Homo sapiens: one gene and its partners. The protein of the gene in region 6 purifies or fractionates together with the protein of the main gene of each other region. This does not show direct contact. Each region holds a gene or a part of one and is shown on either strand. Other genes may lie near its edges. The genes, in order: ARHGEF2, KLHL21, SERPINE2, DROSHA, LONP2 and TBC1D3G.

Region 1 (3,500 bases), on a different chromosome or scaffold from region 6:
CCGTTCTTCACCTAGCCGCCGGCAGCGCCGTAGCTCCTCCTGCAGCAGCGCATGTTGCCGCTGCAGTAATGCCAGTTCCGTGGCCTGCTTTTCAGGGGCCACAGGGGCAGCCCCAGCCCTGCCAGCCTCCCCATCCCGAGAGTTGGCTCGGCACAGCTTCTCCCGCCGCTCAGGGCCCTCAGGGAACCGGGCTTCCATCAGAGTGTCCTGCTGGGCCACAGCTGCCTGGGAGTAGAATGCAGGCAGAAGGGTTTATCAGAACCCCTGTGCTCTTCTACCCCTCGCCTTCACCCTCCAAGGCCCAGATCATCGCTCCTGGAGAGCTTGGATTGGGAGGGTATTTAGAAAGGCCTGTTGGGATGACCATGCCCCACCTAAACAGGCATCTCTAGCCTGGCTCCTCCCCTTCCCCATTCAAGCCCTTGTCCTACTGACCTGTAGGCCATGTAGAAGTCCATAGAGATTGACCAATCGCTGTAACGCCTCCTGAGGACAGACAGGGTGGGAACAGGGCCCCAGCTTTAGGATGGGAGAACTGCCCAAAAGTTGAACAAGGGTGGGTGTGGGGACAGTAGGATCCGGAGACATACTTGAATGTAGACGCTTTCCCCACCCCACTCCAAACTGGGCTCTAACTACTCAGACTAAGAACATCCTCCCTTCAGTCTCCTATACCATCAATTCCCATCTCACCTCTTGCGGTGATCTCAGCTGATTTCCATTTCGATCCTGCAGAAATGGGCAAGAATGGGGAGTCAGCAGGCACACAAATCCTGGGTGCCTGCCCCTGACAGCTTTGTGTTGAGGATCCAGAGGCTGGCTGTCCCTCTCCCACCCTCTTGCCAAGTCCCAGAACCTCTTGAGGACCTACCCTCTGGCTAGAGTCTGAGTCAGCTCTGCAGAGTTCAATGGAGCCATTGAAGGTTCTGGCCTCACCATCTGTTGAGAAGGAGAAAAGGATGGCTGAGCTCACTTCCCTGGGGCCCTGATACCACTTGATCCCTGGTACCACTCTACTAACTTTGGCCCCTCCCACCTACTACCTTGGTCCCCTGCCCTGGTACTCACTGGCAGTGACCCCAGGACTCGTGTTACCACCGCTGTCTGGTTCCAAGGGCAGGGCTGGCTCTCGGGGTGTCAAGAGCAGTTCCACTCCTGGCCCCACCAGCAGGTCTTTCAGACCCTCCACTGTGGGGAAAGAGGAAGAGGTGAGAACAGGAATGACACAGGACCCTGAGGGGAATGCCATTCACCCCCACATGTGGGACACTTGGGCATCTGGGGGAATGCCCCCTGCACTGGCAGTGGGGTTTCACTCACACAACCACTGATGAGGTAAAGGGCAGTAAATGCCTACGAGGCAGCAGAGTCCATGCAGCATGGACGATATGGAGCAGCAGCAAGGACCACACCTCCTCCCCTGCCTTTCCCAGGAACTGGCCCAGAAGAGGCACTCAGGGCCGTTTATGGTTTATAGGGTTGGCATCCCACTTGTCTGTGTTTGTCCATGTCTAGTCACATGTCCACATTCTGTGACGGTGAGTGCTTGAGCCTGGACTCTTCCCTGGGAGCTCCCTCACCCTCACGGATGGCATCCTGCAGCAGCCGCTCGCCACGAGGGGACTCAAGGGACTCAGAGCGGAAAAGGCCCCTGGGCAGGGTGGGCAGGGCCATCCCACTGCCACCATCCTCTTCGGCCTGGAAATGGGTCATCTCAGCAAACAGCCCGACCTTCTCTCGCAGCAGCTCCACCAGTGCCCGGTCCTTCTGCTGCAACTCCACTGCAGATAAGGAACAAGTGAGGACATGAGAGGACGTAGGGGTATGCAAGAGCGCCAGTAGAGGACAGCCCTAGGGGAGAGGGGTAGGGTGGGGCAGTGTGGCAGACTTAATTTTGTTATTTTGGCATTTATAAAAAAGAAAAAGCTTTCTGTTGGTCAGGTGTAGTGGCTCACACCTGTAATCCCAGCACTTTGGGAGGCCAAGGCAGGTGGATCGCTTGAGGCCAGGAGTTCAAGACCAGCCTGGCTAACATGGCAAAACCCTGTCTCTACTTAAAATACAAAAATTAGCCAGGTGTGGTGGCACGCGCCTGTAGTCCCAGCTACTCAGGAGGCTGAGGCACAAGAATCGCTTGAACCCAGGAGGCAGAGGTTGCAGTGAGGCCGAGATCACACCACTGCACTCCAGCCTGGGCGACACAGCAAGACTCTGTCTCAAAAAAAAAAAAAAAAGATTTGTGGAAGGGGTTGCAGGTTGTCCAACAGTGTTCATTCTTTCCATCTTCCTTTAATGAGAAAATGCATAGAAGTTTCATCTGGGCACACATGGCTGCCCAGTTAACAACTATGTTTTCCAGCCTGACTTGCACGTGACTATATTGCTACATGACTACATTCTGGCCAATGGATATGAGCATCTTCCAGATCTGCTCTTAAAAGAAATGGGTATAGGCTGGGCATGGCAGGTGGATCACTTGAGGCCAGGAGTTCGAGACCAGCCTGGCCAACATGGTGAAACCCTATCTCTACTAAAAATACAAAAATTAGCCAGGAGTGGTGGTGGATGCCTGTAATCCCAGCTCCTTGGGAGGCTGAGGCAGGAGAATCACTTGAACGTGGGAGATGGAGGTTGCAGTGAGTCGAGATCACGCCACGCCACTGCACTCCACCCTGGGCGACAGAGCAAGACCCTGTCTCAAAAAAAAAAAAAAAAAAAAGAAAGAAAGAAAAAGAAAAAAGGGTATAAACTCTATTCCTTTACTCCTCCTTGCTAGGTGTGATACAGGTGTGACAGTGGGAGCTGGAGTAGCCACTTCAGACATGACATAGAGATGAAAACTTCATGTTAAAGATGGCAGAGCTGCACCACTACTCTGCACTTCCCACTTTGAACTGTTATGTTGACAGCAATAATATTCTACCTTGTTGGGGTTTTTTTTGTTGTTGTTGTTACCCAGACTGGAGTGCAGTGGTGCAATTATAGTGTATTACAGCCTTGAACTCCTGGGCTCAAACAATCCGCCCACCTCAGCCTCCCGAGTAGCCAGGACTACAGGTGTGTACCATCATGCCTAGCTATTTTTTTTTTTTTAATTTTTTGTAGAGACAGGGTCTTGCTATGTATGTTTTGTTGCCCAGACTGGTCTCGAACTCCTGACCTCAAGAGATCCTCCTGTCTCCCAAATCCTTCTGGGATTAAAGGCGTGAGCCACTGCATCCAGCCAATCTACTTCTTTTTTTTTTTTTTTTTTTGAGATGGAGTCTCCCTCTGTTGCCCAGGCTGGAGTGCAGTGGCGTGATCTCAGCTCACTGCAAGCTCCGCCTCCCAGGTTCATGCCATTCTCCTACCTCACTCTCCTGAGTAGCTGGGACTACAGGCACCCGCCACCACCCCCGACTAATTTTTTTTTTGTATTTTTTAGTAGAGACGGGGTTTCACCGTGTTAGCCAGGATGGTCTCAATCTCCTGACCTCGTGATCCGCCCACCTCGGCCTCCC
Region 2 (3,500 bases), on a different chromosome or scaffold from region 6:
ACAGTGAGCCAAGAGCGTGCTATTGCACTCCAGCCTGGGAGGCATAGTGAGTGAGACTTCGTCTCAAAAACAAAAAAAAGAAACAAAGATACTACAAGACAAACAACAGTAGTTGTGAACCTGACACGGCAGCACAAAACCAGCCACAGACAATGCATAGACACGAGCCTGGCTGTGTGCCAAGAAAACTATCCATGGACAGACATTTACATCTCGTCTAACTTGAAATGTTATTCCTGATTTTTTGCCCCCAATCATTTCAAAATGTCAAAGTCACCCTCAGTTTGTGGGCCCTGTGGTGGTGGTGATGATGATGATGATTACACCCTGGAACCTGCTAGGCTGCCCTGTCTTTCCCCAGCAGAGACTTGCAAACCACAGCCCAGAGGCTGGACAGAGCTCGCCGGCATTCCCAGAGGGGGCTACTGCACCCCAGCCAAGGAGGCATTTTGTACCAGAACCAAGGGGAGGGAGGCCCAGGTCATTTGTGGGTCACATGGACAACGGCTGAGGCTGTGGCCTCCCTGAGAATGGCACGTCCTAGGCACAAGCTGCCCAAAGACAGGTGGTGTTCTGGGCAGAGGGTTATGTGGCTCTTGAAGAGCCAAAGTGCGCAGACAAAGTGACACCGGGACAAATAGCCCAGGGGGACCAGCCCCAAGCAGGGCCCCTGCATGCTTAGCCTTCTCTTTAGGGCTCAAGCAGCTTCCACTCAGGCTGAGCCTGGGCGCCCCTCCTCTGTGCTCCGGCACAGGTCACACTGGTAAGATGAACGCATGCAGCCTTTCCAGAGCACTGCCTCCTCCCACACGTGCAAGTGGCTTAGGAAACCCCTGGAAAGGTCAGCAGTGGGTGGGGGTGGCGGGGCAGACCCTCATGCTTCCCTATGGGAAGGTTAACCCAGCAGGCAGACCTCCCTGGCGCACATCTTCACATCTTGCTCTAGGACAGATGGGGGAGGGGAGGAGGACTCTCAAAGACACTGGGCCTGGAACCACTGCCTAGGGGCCGAAAGGAAGGTTCTGGCCCTCTGATAAGTTGTATTTATAGCCATCTCCACCCCCTCTTTGAAGACACCTTCACAACTTGGGGGAGGGAGAGCCGGGCAAAGGGTCAGATGATGTTTTATAATGGGACCAGAGCTGGCTGAGATTCCAGGGCTTTCTCAGAGCAAGACCATTGGTTCTGGGCATGTGGTGGTGCCCAGCTACTTGCGTGACAAGCAACGCCACCCCTGTTCTTCTTGGTGCTCACTCCAAAAGCCTGGTAAGGAGCCTCCTGTCTGGGGGGATGGTGGGGCAGATGCCAAGGCCAGGGCAGCTCTGGCAGTGCGAGGCAGGGGGCCAAGGAGCAGGGAGCTCACATCCCCCAAGCTCCCCATTCAAAGCCCCAGCACGAAAGGGCACAGTGGGGACTGTCATTCAGTTCTTCCCCTTCCCTCCTGGACCCAGAGCTTCAGGCAGGCTCTAGGCTGGGAGGGAGCAGCAGGATTATGTGAACAAGCAGCGGAGTACAGCAGGGAGGGGCTGCCCCGTGCCATCATTGATGCCCAGAAACCAGCCGGAGGCAGCATTTGGCTGTGACCAGACAGGTCATCAAGGCCAGCAGACATATGATGACCCGCAGGCTGCCTGTCTCTGCTCCGTGCTGCTCAGCCTACAGCCTACTCTTGCTGGAAGAGCTCAACTCCACCACCTGTGAAATCGCTTAAGAAAGCCTGGGGTTTTCCTTAAACCCAAAGGAATGGAACAAGCACTGTGGGCTCCGAAAGACCAGGCCTGGCTGGGTGTGGGGGCTCACACCTACAATCCCAGCACTCTGGGAGGCAGGAAATGTGAGACGATTGTTTGAAGCTAGGAATTTGAGACCAGCCGGGGCAATACAGCGAGACCCTGTCTCTACAAAAAGTTAAAAAATGAGCCAGGTGTGGTGGCTTGTGCCTATAATCCCAGCACTTTGGGAGGCTGAGGCAGCTGGATCACATGAGGTCAGGAGTTCTAGACCAGCCTGACCAACATGGAGAAACCCTGTCTCTACTAAAAATATAAAAATCAGCCAGGCATGGTGGCACATGCCTGTAATCCCAGCTACTTGGCAGGCTGAGGCAGGAGAATGGCTTGAACTTGGGAGGCAGAGGTTGCAGTGAGCCAAGATCGCGCCACTGTACTCCAGCTTGGGCAACAAAAGCGAAACTCTTCTTTTAAAAAAACAAAACAAAACAAAAAAAAACAGACCGGGTGCAGTGGCTCACGCCCGTAATCCCAGCACTTTGGGAGGCCAAGGCGGACCGATCATGAGGTCAGGAGATCAAGACCATCCTGGCTAACACGGTGAAACCCCGTCTCTACAAAAAATACAAAAAAATTAGCCAGGCATGGTGGTGGGCGCCTGTAGTCCCAGCTACTCTGGAGGCTGAGGCAGGAGAATGGCGTGAACCCGGAAGGTGGAGCTTGCAGTGAGCTGAGATTGCGCCACAGCACTCCAGCCTGGGCGACAGAGCGAGACTCCGTCTCAAAAACAAAACAAAACAAAAACAAAGAGACAGACCCAGCCTCCAACCCCAGCTAGGCCTCAGTTTCTCATCTGTGGAAAAGGGAGAACAGCCATGATGTGTGCTTAAGACAGGGCCTGGTAAGAGACACCAAACACACAGTGGGGCTCGGCACCTGGAACTCACCTGACAAAGTACATGAGTCCGTTTAGAGTCGCAGTCTTGGGGGCGAAGGACCAGGGCGGGAGCTGGCCGCAGTCCACCAGCGACCACAGGTCGGTGTCCGGGTCGTAGCACTGCATCACCATGGTCTCCTTGCCAGCCAGGGAGCCGATGGCATAGAGCCGGCCACGGCACGCAGTGGTGGAGCAGTTGTCCATGGGGTAGGTCATGGGCTGCAGGGCCTCCCAGGAGTCAGTGGTGTGGTCATAGCGCTCGGTGCTGTCGGCGGCCACCACGTACAGCAGTCCGTCCAGCACAGAGGAGCTGTGGTACTCGCGGGCCTTCAGCATGGGCGCCACCTCCGCCCACTCATTCACGCTTGAGTTGTACCTCCACACGCAGTCATAGAGCCGGGAGCCATCGGACCCACCTGCCAGGACGCATGACAGGCAGAAGATCAGCCCACTCAGGTGAGTCACCCACCTGCACCCTCCCGAACTTCCGCAAGGGCCTCTGCCTTGGGAGGAATTAACATCACTGGGCTTCACCCCAGACGCACACCCTCTCCCCAAAAGCCCAGGCCACATGTTGTGGCTAAGGCAAAGCACACGCTGACCACTGTCCAGCGAGATGACTGCTGCCAAGCCTCTACCAAACAAAGGTCCTGAGTGCAATGCTGGAAGAATCCAGCAGCCTCCTCTGGACACCGCCCCCCAGCCATACATACACCTCAGCAGACCAGAGCCCTGGGCCTTGGGACAGTTCTCCTGGGGAGCCACAGAGCTTGTCAGCAGGGCACACAGGGACTTGCTCACTAACTCCTAGGCTTCCTGGGCACCCTCCAAGC
Region 3 (3,500 bases), on a different chromosome or scaffold from region 6:
GCTTCACAAGCACATCTACGATCACAGCGCAACTCAACCCTGGGCGCCATGGAGGCGGTAAGCCAGGAAGTGTCCCCCTCGCTGGAACGAGGGCTGGAGCCCTGGGAAAGGAGACCTAGTGGCAGACCCCAAGCTCCAAAAGTACAAAAAAGGGACCAGAGTCTAGTTCTCCTAACTGCCAGCACCACAGTGTTTGTTCTTTAGAAGAGACTGACCCCAAGCCCCAAGTGGCACCAGCAAATCCCCTTCTGGCTGCTCTGCTTCTTGGGGTTGTCAGCAAAAACCAAGCCATAAACCCTCCTGTCACAAGACTCTCAGGCAAAGGCTCCGCCAGTGAGCAATTGTGCACACGCACCATTTACGCCGTATCTCATCACCATGGCGAGCTGCTTCTTGGTCCTGCCGTCCGCCCCCAGCTGAAGCATCCCCAGGACCGACGCAATCCCATGGGGAGAGATCACGATGTTGTCATGAGGCCTCGACTTCACAATCTGATTGAAAACCTGGATCCCCGTGTTGGAGCCTAGTTCCTCGAGAGACAGAGGATTGAAGTGGGAGCAGATGGAAGGCAGCGTCACAGAGGCCAAGAGGAAGAGGGGGAGATGCCAGTTCATGGTTCCTTCCACCAAGGACGACCTGGAAAAGTAAGTTAAAAAATATTTAAATTATACTTAAATGGGTACTTTACTACTTTTTTTTTTTTTCCCCCAGATAGAGACTCGTTCTTTCACCCAGGCTGGAGTGAAGTGGTGCCATCTCAGCTCACTGCAACCTCCGCCTCCTGGGTTCAAGCAATTCTCCTGCCTCAGCCCCCTGAGTAGCTGGAATTACAGGCGTGTACCACCATACACGGCTAATTTTTGTATTTTTAGTAGAGATGGGATTTCACCATGTTGGCCAGGCTGGTCTCAAACTCCTGACCTCAAGTGATCTGCCTGACTCAGCCTCCCAAAGTGCTGGGATTACAGGTGTGAGCCACTGTACCTGGCCTGCGAGGCCATTTTGTACTCACCTAGTATGCTTGACTGTACTCAGCATAATTGAATGCCATGTGAATATATTTAAGACAGAACAGTGTAATTAAATCAGTTTTCAAAACACACCCTGGGGAGGTGGGGAGGGAAAGGAAGCAAACTTCCATCTCTTGGGTCCTTACAATGTGCCAGGTCCTATACTAATCATTATTTAATTCTCGGTTATTTTATTTTTATTTATTTATTTATTTTGAAACAGTCTCACTCTGCTGCCCAGGCTGGAGTGCAGTGGCGCAATCTCGGCTCACTGCAACCTCCGCCTCCCGGGTTCAAGTGATTCTCACGTCTCAGCTTCCTGAATATGTGGGATTACAAGTGTGCGCCAACTCGTCTGGCAATTTTTTTTTTTTTTTTTTTTTTAGTAGAGATGAGGTTTCACTGTGTTTGCCAGGCTGGTCTCGAATGTCTGGCCTCAAGTGATCCGGCCTCCCAAAATGCTGGGATTACAGGCGTGAGCCACCATGCTCAGCCTAATCATTATTTAATTCTCATAAGTGCCCTTCATCCAATTAAGCCAATATTTACTGAGGGTTCACTGGGTGTCGGACCCTTTTCTAAGTGTTAGGCATATGACATAACTGAATGGACAAGACTCTCACCCGCACTGAGCTTACAATCTAGAAGGGAGACAGAAAATAAGCCAGCAAGCAATAAAGCATTTTCAGAAAAGGATAAAGAGCACAATGATAAAATACAGGGATGCGAGCAGATGAGGGGCCGGCAGGGTGCGGGGGGTGGTCATTAGATAGGGTGATCAGGGAGCCATCTCTATGGCAGGAACATCGTGATGAGACCTGAATGGGGGAAGGAGCCAGCCACACTCTGATGGGTAAACAGTACGCTGGGCAGAGGGAGAGCAGGGCCGAGGCCCTGACGTGGGAATAAACTTGGTGTATTAGAGGCCAGTGTGGATGTGAAATCAAGGTCGTAAAGAAGGGAGACAGGTGGGTGAAGCCGAAGGAGAGTTCAGATCTGGTAAGGTCCTGTAGAGCCTGGAAAGGCACTGGGATTTCACTCCAAGGGTTACAAGAAACCCCTGGAGGATTTCAAACAAGGGAGTGAATCCCTCGGGTTGCTCTGATTATCTTATAACCACAAGCGCTTGATTCTTTTACCATAAGCACACTGCTTTTAAAATTAAAGAATTATTAATTAAAATAAACTTAAGTGACTGCTTTAAAGTTACAATAGGGTAGGACAATTGGTAAATTCATCAATTTTGAGGATGGTGTTGCTTACACGGATGTTCTCAACTACAGTGATTTGTTTTAAAGAAGCTTCCTTCCTTAATTACCACTCACAGAGCTTTCTCTGGCTATGACAAGTAAGAGGTAGGAAATTTACATGTATTTATGGAAAAGCAAATACTTTCATTAAGTAAGAACTTAACAGTGGCAGCTGGTAAAACAAAAGCAGCATTCGTGATGTTGCTAATTCAGTTCTTCCCCAAGAGGCCCAAGCTCCTGCTAAGCACAGTCTCCCGTGGAGCCAATGTGTCCCACTCTGTTGTTACGTGTGGGAGGTTAGGGGTGACTGCAGAGAATAAAACAGAAGGGGGCCTTTTAAGAGACAGGTGACCTGGAGGGAGGGGGAAATCATGTCTCTGTGTGCTCTGGGGGAAAGCATGGGCACAACCACAGTGTTAGGCAAAACTGGCCCCGTATTTGGTGTCTCCTTGCCTTCCTTTCTACACACTTTCTGTGCTTCCCACCCTAGGGCGTAGGAGATGTTCAATAAACACTTGTGAGATTAATCCGATGGCTCATAAATACTTCCTATTTTTATTAATTAATCTTTCCCTGCATCACAACAGCGTTTATGGAGTGTGGCTAAGAAAACGCTTGTGTTTAATCCTGATCCTCACGGTCAGCTCAAGACACTCTCTGAGGGAAGAGCCACCATCACATCGAGCAAGGACTGTGGGCACACGCAGAACTCCCTGCCTGGCCCCCCGACACAGAGGGCCCCACTGTGAACCACTGAGGCCATCCTTCCAGCTGATGTTGCAAGTTTCTTATATGTTGTGAAACAAGCGCTTTTCTAAAGATTTAGAATGTTCCGTGTTTCTCCAGAGCTTCATTGTAAAACAATTGTATCAACTCAGCCCGTCTAAATTCAAAACATGTAAGTGACCTACATACGCTGCTCCCGCTTGGGCTCAACGGGCCAGCGTGGCCTATTTTGACTTTGGCACCTAGGACTGGCTCTAATGCCACGACAATCCCTGGAGTTTCCTGGAGCCTACTGGACTTTGGAGAGCGTCCAAATCATGACCGTGGAAGCTTTATTCATTCCATCTAAAAACTAGAAACTGTGTTCTCCCCTTCCTTCCTCCCTCTTGCCTTTTCTTTCTTTTGAGCAATAAATATCCTCTTTAAAATTTAATATAGCACAAAGTCATCATAAGTATAAAACATTGTGTACAATCTTTCTTACAAATGGCCAAATGCAGTGACCAACTTCATC
Region 4 (3,500 bases), on a different chromosome or scaffold from region 6:
GTATCCTGCTGTTTTGTTGTACAAAATAATGAAAGTAATTCTTTGACCTTAAATAGCACGTTGCTACTGTTGATGGGCATTTAAATAATTTTATAATGGATTACATGTGAACAAAATATTTTCCATTTTCAAATTTTGAGAGCAGAGACCAACTTTTCAAGAAGCTAGTGACATTTTGTTTGTTAAATGACACTTAAAAAGTTTGAGGGGTTTTTTTTTTGTTTTGTTTTGTTTTTTGAGACAGAGTCTCACTCTGTTGCCCAGGCTGGAGCACAGTGGTGCGATCTCAGCTCACTACAACCTCCGCCTCCCGGGTTCAAGTGATTCTCCTGCCTCAGCCCCCTGAGTAGCTGGGACTACAGGTGTGCGCCACCACGCCCGGCTAATTTTTGTATTTTTAGTAGAGATGGGGTTTCACTATGTTGGCCAGGCTGGTCTCGAACTCCTGACCTCGTGATCCACCCGCCTTGGCCTCCCAAAGGTTTGAGTGTTTTAAGTAATGTGGGTGAATTCACCCAAGTTTATCCCTTTTGTCACCTCATTGAATATTTGTCAGATGGCTGGCTGGTATCACAGTTGTAGGTAGAGTGACCAGTTTGTCCCAGTTGCTGAGAGATTTCCTGGTTTTAGCATTGAAATTCCTCTGTCCCAGGGAAACCAGGCAGCCAACCAGACTCTAATTGTTGGGCATTGTTGTGGGACAGAATGAAGATTATTGGCCTCTGTGTGAATCAGTTTTAACAGCCTTAGCCTCCAAAGCAACTGAGCCGCAGACTCTACAGTGTGCTAGTGAAAACTGAATCTCTAATTGAGACTGTCCTGAGAGGTGATTATAAGGAAGGAGGTTGCTGAAACCTGTTCTCTGTGATTTTACCATCTTTTCATAAATTTAAGCTTTCAAGATGAAAGCCATTTCACAAATGATCCAGAAGGAATGAGCCATTCACTTCTTCCTTTATTAGACATGAAGAAAAAAATATGAGGCTCTCTGTTAAAATACACAAATGTCCTACATGGACATAATAAAAGAAGCTTAACTATTTGGCCTTTGCACCACTATACTTTCTAACTTAAAGATGTAGAATTAAAGGAATACATAAGATCCACTGAGAACAAGTGAGGGAAAAAACTTAAATAGAGGCATCTGTGCATTCTGAAATGTGAAATTAAAGCAGAAGAGGCTCTGCCTGTGATGTGGAATCCTTCCCCTGTGCCTTCAGAGAGGTTAAGGAAAAGTTATATCTGACTAGGTGTCCTTTTAAAAGTTTAATTTTTAAAGGTTTCTATGTGGACTGCAAAAAAGGACAAAATCATTGTTCATTATGCCAAATGGCATAGGCTCATTTACAAGGATGACATTATAGTTTTTAGATAGTATAGCTGCTGTAATTAAAGGGTTTTAAATGACCTTTTCCCTTTGGGGACAAGGCTTTCCTGGAAAAAAGTCCGATTTATTCCTTCCCTACTTAGGTTAAAGTCAATACATAAAGACTTCTTATGGGAATAAATGGCTTTGATTTTTCTCTCTAGAAACCAAGCTCTGTCCGTATCGATCAACTGGATCGTGAACAGTTCAACCCCGATGTGATTACTTTTCCGATTATCGTCCACTTTGGGATACGCCCTGCACAGTTGAGTTATGCAGGAGACCCACAGTAAGATATTTCTCAGTGTTTGTCTTAGCCAATTTCACCTTCTACTAACAGCCAAATTAGCAGAGAAATACCCTTTAGTGGATGTTTCCTTTTTAAAAATTAAGACCTGAAATGAGCCATACTTCCAATTTAGATTACCCAAATGAAACAATTGTGGTAGCTCCTGAAGAATTATTTTCTGTACATATTTGAGTGCAAGAAACTATTATTCAATAGAATATTTTTGGCAAACTTGGTCAACATAAGTCCTTGTATGTTTTTAAACTTTAAGGAACTTTTTCTTTATTCATCCTTATAATAATAATTATTATTTTTTATTTTTTCAGTGCCCTCTAGAGGAAAGTAGCACATATTGGTTCCTAGCACTGCCGAATTTATGCAGAGTTCTCTTTTTGGGGGCATCTTAAGAGTTCAAGATCACATGCAAAGTCAAGGTTGTGTTGGAAGTAGGAGCCGTGACTTCTGACTCTTAGGATTGATGTAACTTTCCACGTTTTGATTTTTCCAACTGGCATGTTAGTGTTTTCTGGGAGAAGATTTAGGATGTGTGGGAATGGAGATAGTACCATTAGATTCTTCGGGACTGTTTGGATTTCCTACCTTGCTAAACACACAAACAGCTTCCTGACTTATTTTTTTTTTTTTTTTAAAAAGGATTCATAGTGGGAGAAAAGGGCATGGGAGATTTTCAATTCATAAATACAGTTCTGGCTGACATATATTAGAAGAGGCTAAAGGGTTTTGTTCTTTTTTTTCCCCCTTTGGATAAAAGTATGAAGCAGTGAACCAGGCACTGTGTAAGTACTTCTTTCTTTCCTCCATTCTCTTAAAAAAAAAAAAAAAAGTTTTCAAAAAAGGAGAGGCCCAGCTAAGGCCAAGAAAGGAACAGTTTTAATGTGACAGAAAATCTTTGGAAAATCCCTTCTTGTCAGAAAAATGTTAGTAGAATGTGATGAGGCTCTCGTGGACTCTCAGATGGCAGGACTGTGAATTGATAAAGGACTGCATATTCGCTTCATTTCCAGGACGCTTTGACAGTATCCTTTAGACTGGTCTAGGTTATCACTTATTTGGCTGCAACAAATATGCTTATATTGTCATGGTAAATACAAATTGGTATACACCATTAGTCTTTTATCCTCTCCAGTGGACAAATGGATACAGCTATGTAGCTTGGGTTTTGGCACAAATGGGGTTCTCTATTCTAATACTCTTCAACTTATATTTGGTATAAGTAGTTCAGCAACTGACAGTCTCCCTAAGGAAGGGGTCTTTCTTTCAACAAATATCAGAAAGTGTATATTTAAATAAAATCTGTTATTTTCAAGAGGTAACAGTGAGAAACAGGATGATTCCTTTGGTTGAGGTGTTTTTGTGTCTTTGGAATTCTTTCCAGAGATTCATTCATATAGTCACACCTCATTTCCAACTGAAATAAGCAATAATCAACTTAATCACCAGGTTCCAGTTGACTCTTGTCCATCCTGACTCTCAGCCTCAAAGTCATAGCCTTCCTTAGAATGATGGCTTTCTGCCATTAAGAATAATCAAAAGAATGTAATGTATGATTTGAAGAGGCCTCTTAAAATAACTGGTTTTGTTGCATTTTAGGTTTACCTCCTCTTTACCTGAGATGTTTGCCTGTCCTTTTCCTTAGGTACCAAAAACTGTGGAAGAGTTATGTGAAACTTCGCCACCTCCTAGCAAATAGTCCCAAAGTCAAACAAACTGACAAACAGAAGCTGGCACAGAGGGAGGTCTGTATCAAACTCCATTCCTTGGTGATTAACGATGATGTGCTTCAGGTTTATTTCGTGATTGTTGTATCACACTATACTTCTGGTA
Region 5 (4,232 bases), on a different chromosome or scaffold from region 6:
GGGGAACATCACACTCAGGGGCCTGTCGTTGGGTGGTGGGGAGTGGGGGGGAAGGGATACCATTAGGAGATATACCTAATGTAAATGACGAGTTAGTGAGTGCAGCAAACCAACATGGCACATGTATACATATGTAACAAACCTGTACGTTGTGCACATGTACCCTAGAACTTAAACTATAATAAAAAATAAAATTAAATTAAAAACAGAAAAAAAATAAAAGTATCAAGGTTGTAAAAAAAAAAAAAATTGGACGGGCGCAGTGGCTCAGGCCTGTAATCCCAGCACTTTTGGGAGGCCAAGGCGGGCAGATCACGAGGTCAGGAGATTGAGACCATCCTGGCTAACATGGCGAAACCCCGTCTCTACTAAAAATACAAAAAATTAGCCGGGCGTGGTTGCGGGTGCCTGTAGTCCCCAGCTACTCGGGAGGCTGAAGCAGGAGAATGGCATGAACCCGGGAGGCGGAGCTTGCAGTGAGCCGAGATCTCGCCACTACACTCCAGCCTGGGTGACAGAGCGAGACTCCGTCTCAAAAAAAAAAAAAAAAAAAAAAAATTGAGGACTTGCCACAGATTAGAGAACACCTAGGAGATTTCATAACAAAACACCTAGGAGATTTCACAACAGGATCCTGGATATTGGATCCTGGACCAGATCCAATGAAGGACATTAGTGGGAAAACTGGCAAAATTTGGGTAAGGCCTATAGGTTAAACGATAATAATGTTAATTTCCTGGTTTTGATCATTGAACTATGATTATGTAAGATGATAACAGACGAAACTGGGTGAAAGGTATATAGGAACTCTGCTGTAGTTTTGTACATCTAAAATCAATTCGGGCCGGGCACGTTGGCTCACGCCTGTAATCCCAGCACTTTGGGAGGCCGAGGTGGACGGATCGCTTGAGGTCAGGAGTTAAAGACCAGCCTGGCCAACATGGTGAAATCCCCTCCCTACTAAAAATACAACAATTAGCTGGGTGTGGTGGCGGGCATCTGTAATCCCAGCTACTCGGGAGGCTGAGGCAGGAGAATCGCTTGAACCCGGGAGGCAGAGGCTGCAAGCCGTGGGTATCGCGCCATTGCACTCCAGCCTCCGCGACAGAGCGAGAATCTGTCTCAGAATAAATAAATAAATAAATAAATAAATAATTAGTTCGAATCAAAAGTTAAAAACACTTCAAGTATATGTAAAAAATCGAAGAAAACGTTAAAAACACTTCAAGTATATACAATTCAAATAAGATCATCCTTCCAAATATACTCTGTAAGTGAGGCGAAGGTCGCTGCACGCTTGAGTGCACGTCTTTCCGCATAGGTAGGACGCTCAAGTCTTACCGGGAGGCTCTCCTAGAGAGCAGCGCGAAGCCATGGCTTTTGGGCCCGGGGACGGACCGTAGCGCGTAGCCGGAAGCGGAGGCGTGGAGGCGGGTCTGAGGTTTGGTGACTGCGGGGCAGGCCGGGGGCAGCTGTCTGTCTGGCTCTTTTTGACAGCCCCCAGTGCGAAAGGCTGCCAGCATGTCATCAGTGAGCCCCATCCAGATCCCCAGTCGCCTCCCGCTGCTGCTCACCCACGAGGGCGTCCTGCTGCCCGGCTCCACCATGCGCACCAGCGTGGACTCGGCCCGCAACCTGCAGCTGGTGCGGAGCCGCCTTCTGAAGGGCACGTCGCTGCAAAGCACCATCCTGGGCGTCATCCCCAACACGCCTGACCCCGCCAGCGACGCGCAGGACCTGCCGCCGCTGCACAGGTAGGCCTGGCTGCCCCCGCGGCGGCGGCGGGCGGCGCGGCCTCCTCCGGGGACCTGGGCCCAGGCCACGGCCTGCCTTGAGCGCGAGGCTCAGTTCGGGGCGGCCTTCGCGGCTCGGTTCCGCCTCTCTGGTGCTATCACTTGCAAAATGGGGATGTCAGATACCTGCCCCATGACCATGAATGAGATCGTTCATGAAGTAGTGCCTGACACCTGGTGAAACTACGCAGTTCCCTACCGTTCTGGATAATTTAATTTGAATCCTCTTCCCCCTCTCCGCAATTCCTCGCCCTCGGTCTTCAGCCTCCTAGGCCAGTGCTTTTAACTTTCCAGGCCCTTTCTTTCTCCCCGGTGATCTCTGCCTTCACTTGCCTTCGCTTTTCACCTTTCTCCCCACTGCCCTTTACTCCTATCCGCCTCCCCTTTTCTGTCACCCATCATTTTTGTCCGCTGAGGCATTCTCTGCTCCGTGAGTTTTAACTTTTCCTGTTTCATTCCTAAACTGCACTATTTGTGGGTGCCTTTCTTCTATACTCCCTGCCACCCTTCTCCTTCTCCCCCTAATCCTTCTGTTTCCCTTTGTAAAGGGCCTTTACTGCTCACATTTTCGCTGGTCCCCCTTTCTGGAACTTTCCTAGCTTCTCACCTCTGCTCCTTCACTCATAACATTTCTTAGGCCCCAGGCTTACTACTATATTGCCCAGTACCCTCGCCCTATTGGTGTGACTTTGGGTGAGAGCTTTAACCTCTATTTCTTTTATTCTGCAATTTGGAAACTGACAGCATCCATCTCTTAGGCAAGTTATGAAGAATAAATTGAATAATGTGTATATTCCACTTTGCACCATGCATGATGGATGACTTTGCTGTCCAGTACTGTGTAGTGCATGTGGCTCGTCAAATTGAGATGATAGAATTGCCAGTTGTCCTGGTTTGCTGCGATTGTCTGTTTTAGCATTGAAAGTCCTATGTTTTAGCCCCTCCGTCCCAGGGAAACCAGGAGGTTGGTCACCCTAAATGTGCTGTAAGTGTACAATACACGCCAGATTTTGAAAAAACTTTTTGATTAATACATTTTATATGGATTAAATGTTGGAAAGGTAATATTTTGAGTACTTGGGGTTAATAAAATGTTAAGATTTCTGCTGTTTTTACTTTATAATGTGGCCACTAAAATTTTATATGTGGTCCACATTATATTTTTATTGGACAATGCTGGTATATCGTATGCTCTCAACAAGTATCTTCAAACTCACCTGCCAAGCACCCGCCTCCTATTCCTAACTCTACTGGAGGTGTTGTGTTTTCAGTTTAGAGCTTCTCCTTTCCTGGCAGTTATCCCTTATTTTTAAATTAGGGGTTCCTGACTCTGAATGGATTTCCGGAGGGTTGGACATGTCTTATTTTTCCTCAAAATCTTGTGACTATGTACATTTTTTTAGGAGAATCCTTTGCTTTCTTCAGATTCTCAAAGGAGACTGGTACCTCCCCCCACCCCCGTTAAAAGAAAGCAAAACAAAGCAACAAAGACCAACAAACCTTCCACAGCAGCCCAGTATTCATTTATATTGTAAAAGCCTTGATTTTCTCAAGCATGGAAAATATTTTGGCTCCCATCTGACCTGCTTTGGTTATTGCCTGAGTGGAATTGGTCACATTCCAAGTTTCAGTACTCTTTGATAAATTGTATTGGATTCTAGTTTCCCAACATACGACTCTGCTCCTTCTGCTTACTTTTCCCAAATTATTTTGCCTTCTGTGCCCAGGCACACTTAGTTCCCTGTCTAGGCAAGAGTGGTCATTATTAGACTTCATTTTCTTTCTACTGTGCATATGTATTGATTAGCCATGGGCACATTGTGAACTTGAAAAGTCGATTTAGTCACATTTTAAGTTTCACTATTTGTTGGTATTATTCTGGCAAGATTTTGGAAGGTTTTTATTATTTATTCATTTGTGTATTTTTTGAGACAGAGTCTCATTCTGTCTCCTCCGCTGAAGTGCAGTGGCGTGATCGTAGCCCACCGCAACCTTGATTGAACTCCTGGGCTCAAGTGATCGTCCTGCCTCAGCTTCTGGAGTGGCTGGGACTATAGGCGTGCACCACTACACCCAGCTAATTTTTAAATTTTTTGTAGAAATGGGGTCTCACTATGTTGCTTAGGCTGGTCTCAAACTCCTGGACTCAAGCTATCCCCTGCTTTGGCCTCTGGAGTAGCTGGGACTATAGGCAAGCGCCACCATACCCTTCAGGTTTTTAATTTATTTTATGAAAATCCCTCCAAAGCAACAATCCTCAATTCTCCTGCTTGAAAGTAATCACTAATAATCAGGTACTGTGTGATCTGATCCTTGATGTTCATATTATTGCCTTTAACTGAGTAGCAATGTTAAAATTTAATCATTTAAATTAGAAAACATATATTGAAAAGTCTTCATAGAAGTCCGGCATTATAAGAACTCATCAGACCATCTAGT
Region 6 (3,500 bases):
GGGTTTGGCTGAAAGGAAAACAGACGCGGTCAGCATCTCCAGTGAGCCCACGCAGGCCTTTCCGGGCTGGGCCCCACCTGCCTGCGTCTCTGGAGTCCTCGGGGTCTCTGTGTGGCCCCCGTGGCCTGACACCGAGGACACGCCTGTAGTCTGCTGATCCCAGAGGGAGGGGTGCATGCTGCCTGGCGTGGGGAAGCTGTCGTGGCATGGCGGGTGGCTCCTGGGACTGCCCCCAGGGTTCAGACTGGCTGGGGGCTTCCTGCCACACACCTTCGTCCCAGGGCTGTTGGGCCTGGGATACGGCCCCCAGTCAGAACTCAGGTGGGAGGGGCCTTGGATGTCACCCAGCCCCTTGTCACCTCACGTGGGGACCCGTCTCCGCAGTGGGTGATTGGGCCCGGACGTGGGTCACCCTCTGCCCTCCTGGGCTGCCCAGTCCATGCCAGGACTGACCGTTCCCACTTCTGGCTGAACTCTTGGCTCTGGCTCTGGGCCCTCTCCCTGAATGCTCTGTGGGTCAGGGACACGGATTCCCTTGTCTCCCTGGCTCCAGGCTTCTTGTCCTGGCAACCTTGGAGGAGCGTGCAGGAGTGAGGGGCCTCTGCTGCTCTCTGAGGCTGTGGGTGCTTGCAGGGAGGGGCGGGGTCTCCCACAAATGGGTCTGGGCTCGTCTAGTAACTTGGAGGGCCCTGCGAGGGGGAGAGGGAGACACCGTGGAAAGTGGGAGGGGGCTTGTTGGAGGGTCTTGCCCACATCCCCCTCCTGCATGCACAGCATGTCCAGTATACACGCACTGAGCGCCTGCCCTGAGGACCGGTGGGCCTCCTGTACTTTCTTAGAGTCCAGGAGGAAGAGGAGGAAGAAAAGGTGAAGAGGAAGGCCCAGGTAGTAGGGTTGCGGGTCCCGGGCACTCCCCTACTACTGACTACCCCAGAGGGTGACATGGGAGGGGACATGGCACTGGAGCCCACCTGGGGGTGGCAGGTCCCCCTGCTTTCTTGTTAGTTTCTTCATAGAGGCCCTAAGATGCTTGAGCACAGTGTCCTCATCCCTGGCCCAGGTATCAACGAACCGGTTGCAAAAACGTGCCCACGGGCCACACCTGGACGTCTTCGTGAGGCGCTCTAGGGACAGGGTGGATATCAGGCCAGGGGAGTTACCTGGGAATGGTCACAGCTCATATCCCGTGGCCACTTCAGTCTCCTACTGGGCGGTGCCGGATCCTTTTGTGGCCACCCCAGGTGTCCAGATATACACAGGAGACTGTGGCTGGGGGGCGATCCGGACAGGGAAGTGCTCACCACACTCTCGACTTTCATCTGGGTCATGTGGGGGATGGGCTCAGTGTCACAGTGTCCTGCCCAGCCCACCTGGCCAGACCTCCCTCTGGGCCAGAACAGCGGATCATGAGGACAGTGTGAGGAAGCTGCCCTCGGGCCAGTCGGGGTCTGACCCCAGGGCTCCCCAGGCCCCGCTGGGCACACGTAGACTTACTCTGCTGAACCTTAAAGGCGATTCTTGTTATCGGCATCAACGCCTGTTCGCCTTCTACCAGATACACGTCCCACAGGCGCAGGGTGAGCCCGAGAGAGATCTGTGGGGACAGCAGGTGTGAAAGAACCTGGTCCTTCCAGGCTGGGGCTGGTGGCTCGAGCTGCGCACACTGGGGCTTCAGTCTCCAGAGTCAGTGACCTTCCCCATGAGGGTCGCCTGAGCCCTCCAGGACGCTGGGTCAGACAAGGTCTTGAAGCTCCTCATGGGGGGCACTCATTTGAGTGGGGATGTGGCTCCTGGAGAGAGGGGCTTGCCCAGGGCTTGAGGCTTCCCTGAGCCCTCTCAAGTCGGGTCCTGGCCCAGTCTGCCCATGAGGCTGGGCCTGAGCCCCAGCCATGGCCCTGGGATGACCCCCCTTGGGCAGAGGGTTTTGCTTGTGTGTCCTTTGGGGACCCGCCTGAGCCTCCTGTGGGCTGGGAGTGAGCCAGACCCCCGGGCTGGGGAAGCAGGGCACTGCAGGGCAAGGAAGGTCCCTGAGCCAGGGTCTCCCTATGCCTCCTTACCCCGTCAATCAATATCCGGATGAGGCAGCCTAACGGGGAACACTGCCCACATAGATCTTTCTTGTCCTGATGGAAGCAACAGAGGTGCTCAGGCCACTGGGCTGCCCTAAAAACCTCCCTCTTCCAGGGCCTCTGAAGACCCTTCCCCTAGTGCAGAACACTGGGCGGTGTCCAGAGCTCCCCACAACACTGTCACCTTCCCACACTCCCGGTGGACACACTGCCCTTTGCCCTGCTCTGTGGGAGCTGGGCCCCCATCCCTGTGCCTCTGTCTCCTCCAGGGCAGGAAAGGAAACCAACTCCCAGCCCATGGAGAACCCGACGTCCCAGGTCAGGCCCTGGCTGGGACTCAGCCAGTCACCAGCCCCACGAGGGGCTCCAGCCCCCCTGCTCCTACAGCCCCACGGGAGGCAGGGCCTCTGGGAAGAGCTGAGGGGACCATAAACTCACCTGATGCCCCATGGTCTTGGGTTGTGACGTGGCTACCACATGCTCCTGTTGGTCTTGGAGCCCCTGGACGGTCCCGCCATTTGGGCTGTGAAATCCTGAGAAGCCCCCAGCCCATCATGAAATCAGAGCCTTCCCCCAAGATGTGGAGCCATCAGCTGCAAGAGCTGGGCAGCTGGAGAGGCCCCCAAACCCCAAGGCCTCCCACCCTCCCATCTGGTGACCCCAACATGCGGCCTTTACCCTGGGGAGGTGGGGCGGGAACATTCCCTGGAGCCTGGCTGGAGGTTCCCCTGGAGGCCTCCTGGGCCAGGGTGCAAAAAGGGCAAGCCTGACTTTCAGGCCACGACAGGGTGGCCGGAACTGGGTGGGCGCTGGGCTTCCCGGTCATCTCCTGGTAGTGGGGTCGGGCCAGGGAACAGGGGATGGGGAGATGCTGCCACCTGGGCTTGGTCGGCCCATTCGTGGGCACCGATGGCAGCAGGAGCCCGGGCAGCTGGAGGGCAGGAGGACTCTCAGGGAGGGGAGAGTCAGCTGCACAGAATCAGAGCCGGAGGGCGTGGCTCCAGGACACAGAGGGTGGCCACGGGGAGGATGAGATGCCCTCTGCTGATGGGGATGACAGGCGTCTGATTTGGGCTTTGGGGGTCAGCCGTGGACTCCTGTGGGACCCTCAGCAGAGACATCCTAAAGTCTCCCAACAAGCTGGCGACACAAGGAGGGTGCCTTGGCTGAAAGCTGTGATCACCTGGCCAGGGTGGCCATCCCCAGGTCTGGCTGCAGGAGGTCCCCGGGGCAGCTGTTCACTTACCCTGCAGGGAGTGCCTCTCACTGGCCAGCAGCTGCACCAGTGCCCAGAATGCATCCTCCTCAGGAAGATAGAGGAGGAACAAGGCGGCGATGTGGCTCAGGTCCCTGCAGTAGCCCACCTCCTGCAAGAGCCAGAGTCACCATGGAAGGACATCACCTGGGAGGGCTGAGGTCACCTGGGAGGAC

The links.
Region 1: the proteins of TBC1D3G (region 6) and ARHGEF2 purify together in Homo sapiens (co-immunoprecipitation; one large-scale study listed by IntAct). This does not show direct contact.
Region 2: the proteins of TBC1D3G (region 6) and KLHL21 purify together in Homo sapiens (co-immunoprecipitation; one large-scale study listed by IntAct). This does not show direct contact.
Region 3: the proteins of TBC1D3G (region 6) and SERPINE2 purify together in Homo sapiens (co-immunoprecipitation; one large-scale study listed by IntAct). This does not show direct contact.
Region 4: the proteins of TBC1D3G (region 6) and DROSHA purify together in Homo sapiens (co-immunoprecipitation; one large-scale study listed by IntAct). This does not show direct contact.
Region 5: the proteins of TBC1D3G (region 6) and LONP2 purify together in Homo sapiens (co-immunoprecipitation; one large-scale study listed by IntAct). This does not show direct contact.

Annotation. Positions count from the first base shown.
Region 1 is NC_000001.11:155,951,048-155,954,547, forward strand, and holds part of ARHGEF2 (rho guanine nucleotide exchange factor 2), read right to left. Parts: intron 1,782-3,500; coding exon 1,581-1,781; intron 1,189-1,580; coding exon 1,069-1,188; intron 940-1,068; coding exon 872-939; intron 730-871; coding exon 694-729; intron 487-693; coding exon 436-486; intron 290-435; exon of another isoform or gene 226-289; coding exon 1-225. UniProt on the Homo sapiens protein: Activates Rho-GTPases by promoting the exchange of GDP for GTP.
Region 2 is NC_000001.11:6,596,370-6,599,869, forward strand, and holds part of KLHL21 (kelch-like protein 21), read right to left. Parts: intron 3,084-3,500; coding exon 2,678-3,083; intron 1-2,677. UniProt on the Homo sapiens protein: Substrate-specific adapter of a BCR (BTB-CUL3-RBX1) E3 ubiquitin-protein ligase complex required for efficient chromosome alignment and cytokinesis.
Region 3 is NC_000002.12:224,001,287-224,004,786, forward strand, and holds part of SERPINE2 (glia-derived nexin isoform b precursor), read right to left. Parts: intron 637-3,500; coding exon of another isoform or gene 615-636; coding exon 356-614; intron 1-355. UniProt on the Homo sapiens protein: Serine protease inhibitor with activity toward thrombin, trypsin, and urokinase. Promotes neurite extension by inhibiting thrombin. Binds heparin.
Region 4 is NC_000005.10:31,466,094-31,469,593, reverse strand, and holds part of DROSHA (ribonuclease 3), read left to right. Parts: intron 1-1,530; coding exon 1,531-1,655; intron 1,656-3,312; coding exon 3,313-3,412; intron 3,413-3,500. UniProt on the Homo sapiens protein: Ribonuclease III double-stranded (ds) RNA-specific endoribonuclease that is involved in the initial step of microRNA (miRNA) biogenesis.
Region 5 is NC_000016.10:48,242,868-48,247,099, forward strand, and holds the start of LONP2 (lon protease homolog 2, peroxisomal), read left to right. Parts: upstream 1-1,432; 5' UTR 1,433-1,521; coding exon 1,522-1,754; intron 1,755-1,992; exon of another isoform or gene 1,993-2,136; intron 2,137-4,232. UniProt on the Homo sapiens protein: ATP-dependent serine protease that mediates the selective degradation of misfolded and unassembled polypeptides in the peroxisomal matrix.
Region 6 is NC_000017.11:36,330,384-36,333,883, reverse strand, and holds part of TBC1D3G (TBC1 domain family member 3G), read right to left. Parts: intron 3,437-3,500; coding exon 3,316-3,436; intron 2,603-3,315; coding exon 2,508-2,602; intron 2,124-2,507; coding exon 2,058-2,123; intron 1,595-2,057; coding exon 1,495-1,594; intron 1,125-1,494; coding exon 972-1,124; intron 9-971; coding exon 1-8. UniProt on the Homo sapiens protein: Acts as a GTPase activating protein for RAB5. Does not act on RAB4 or RAB11.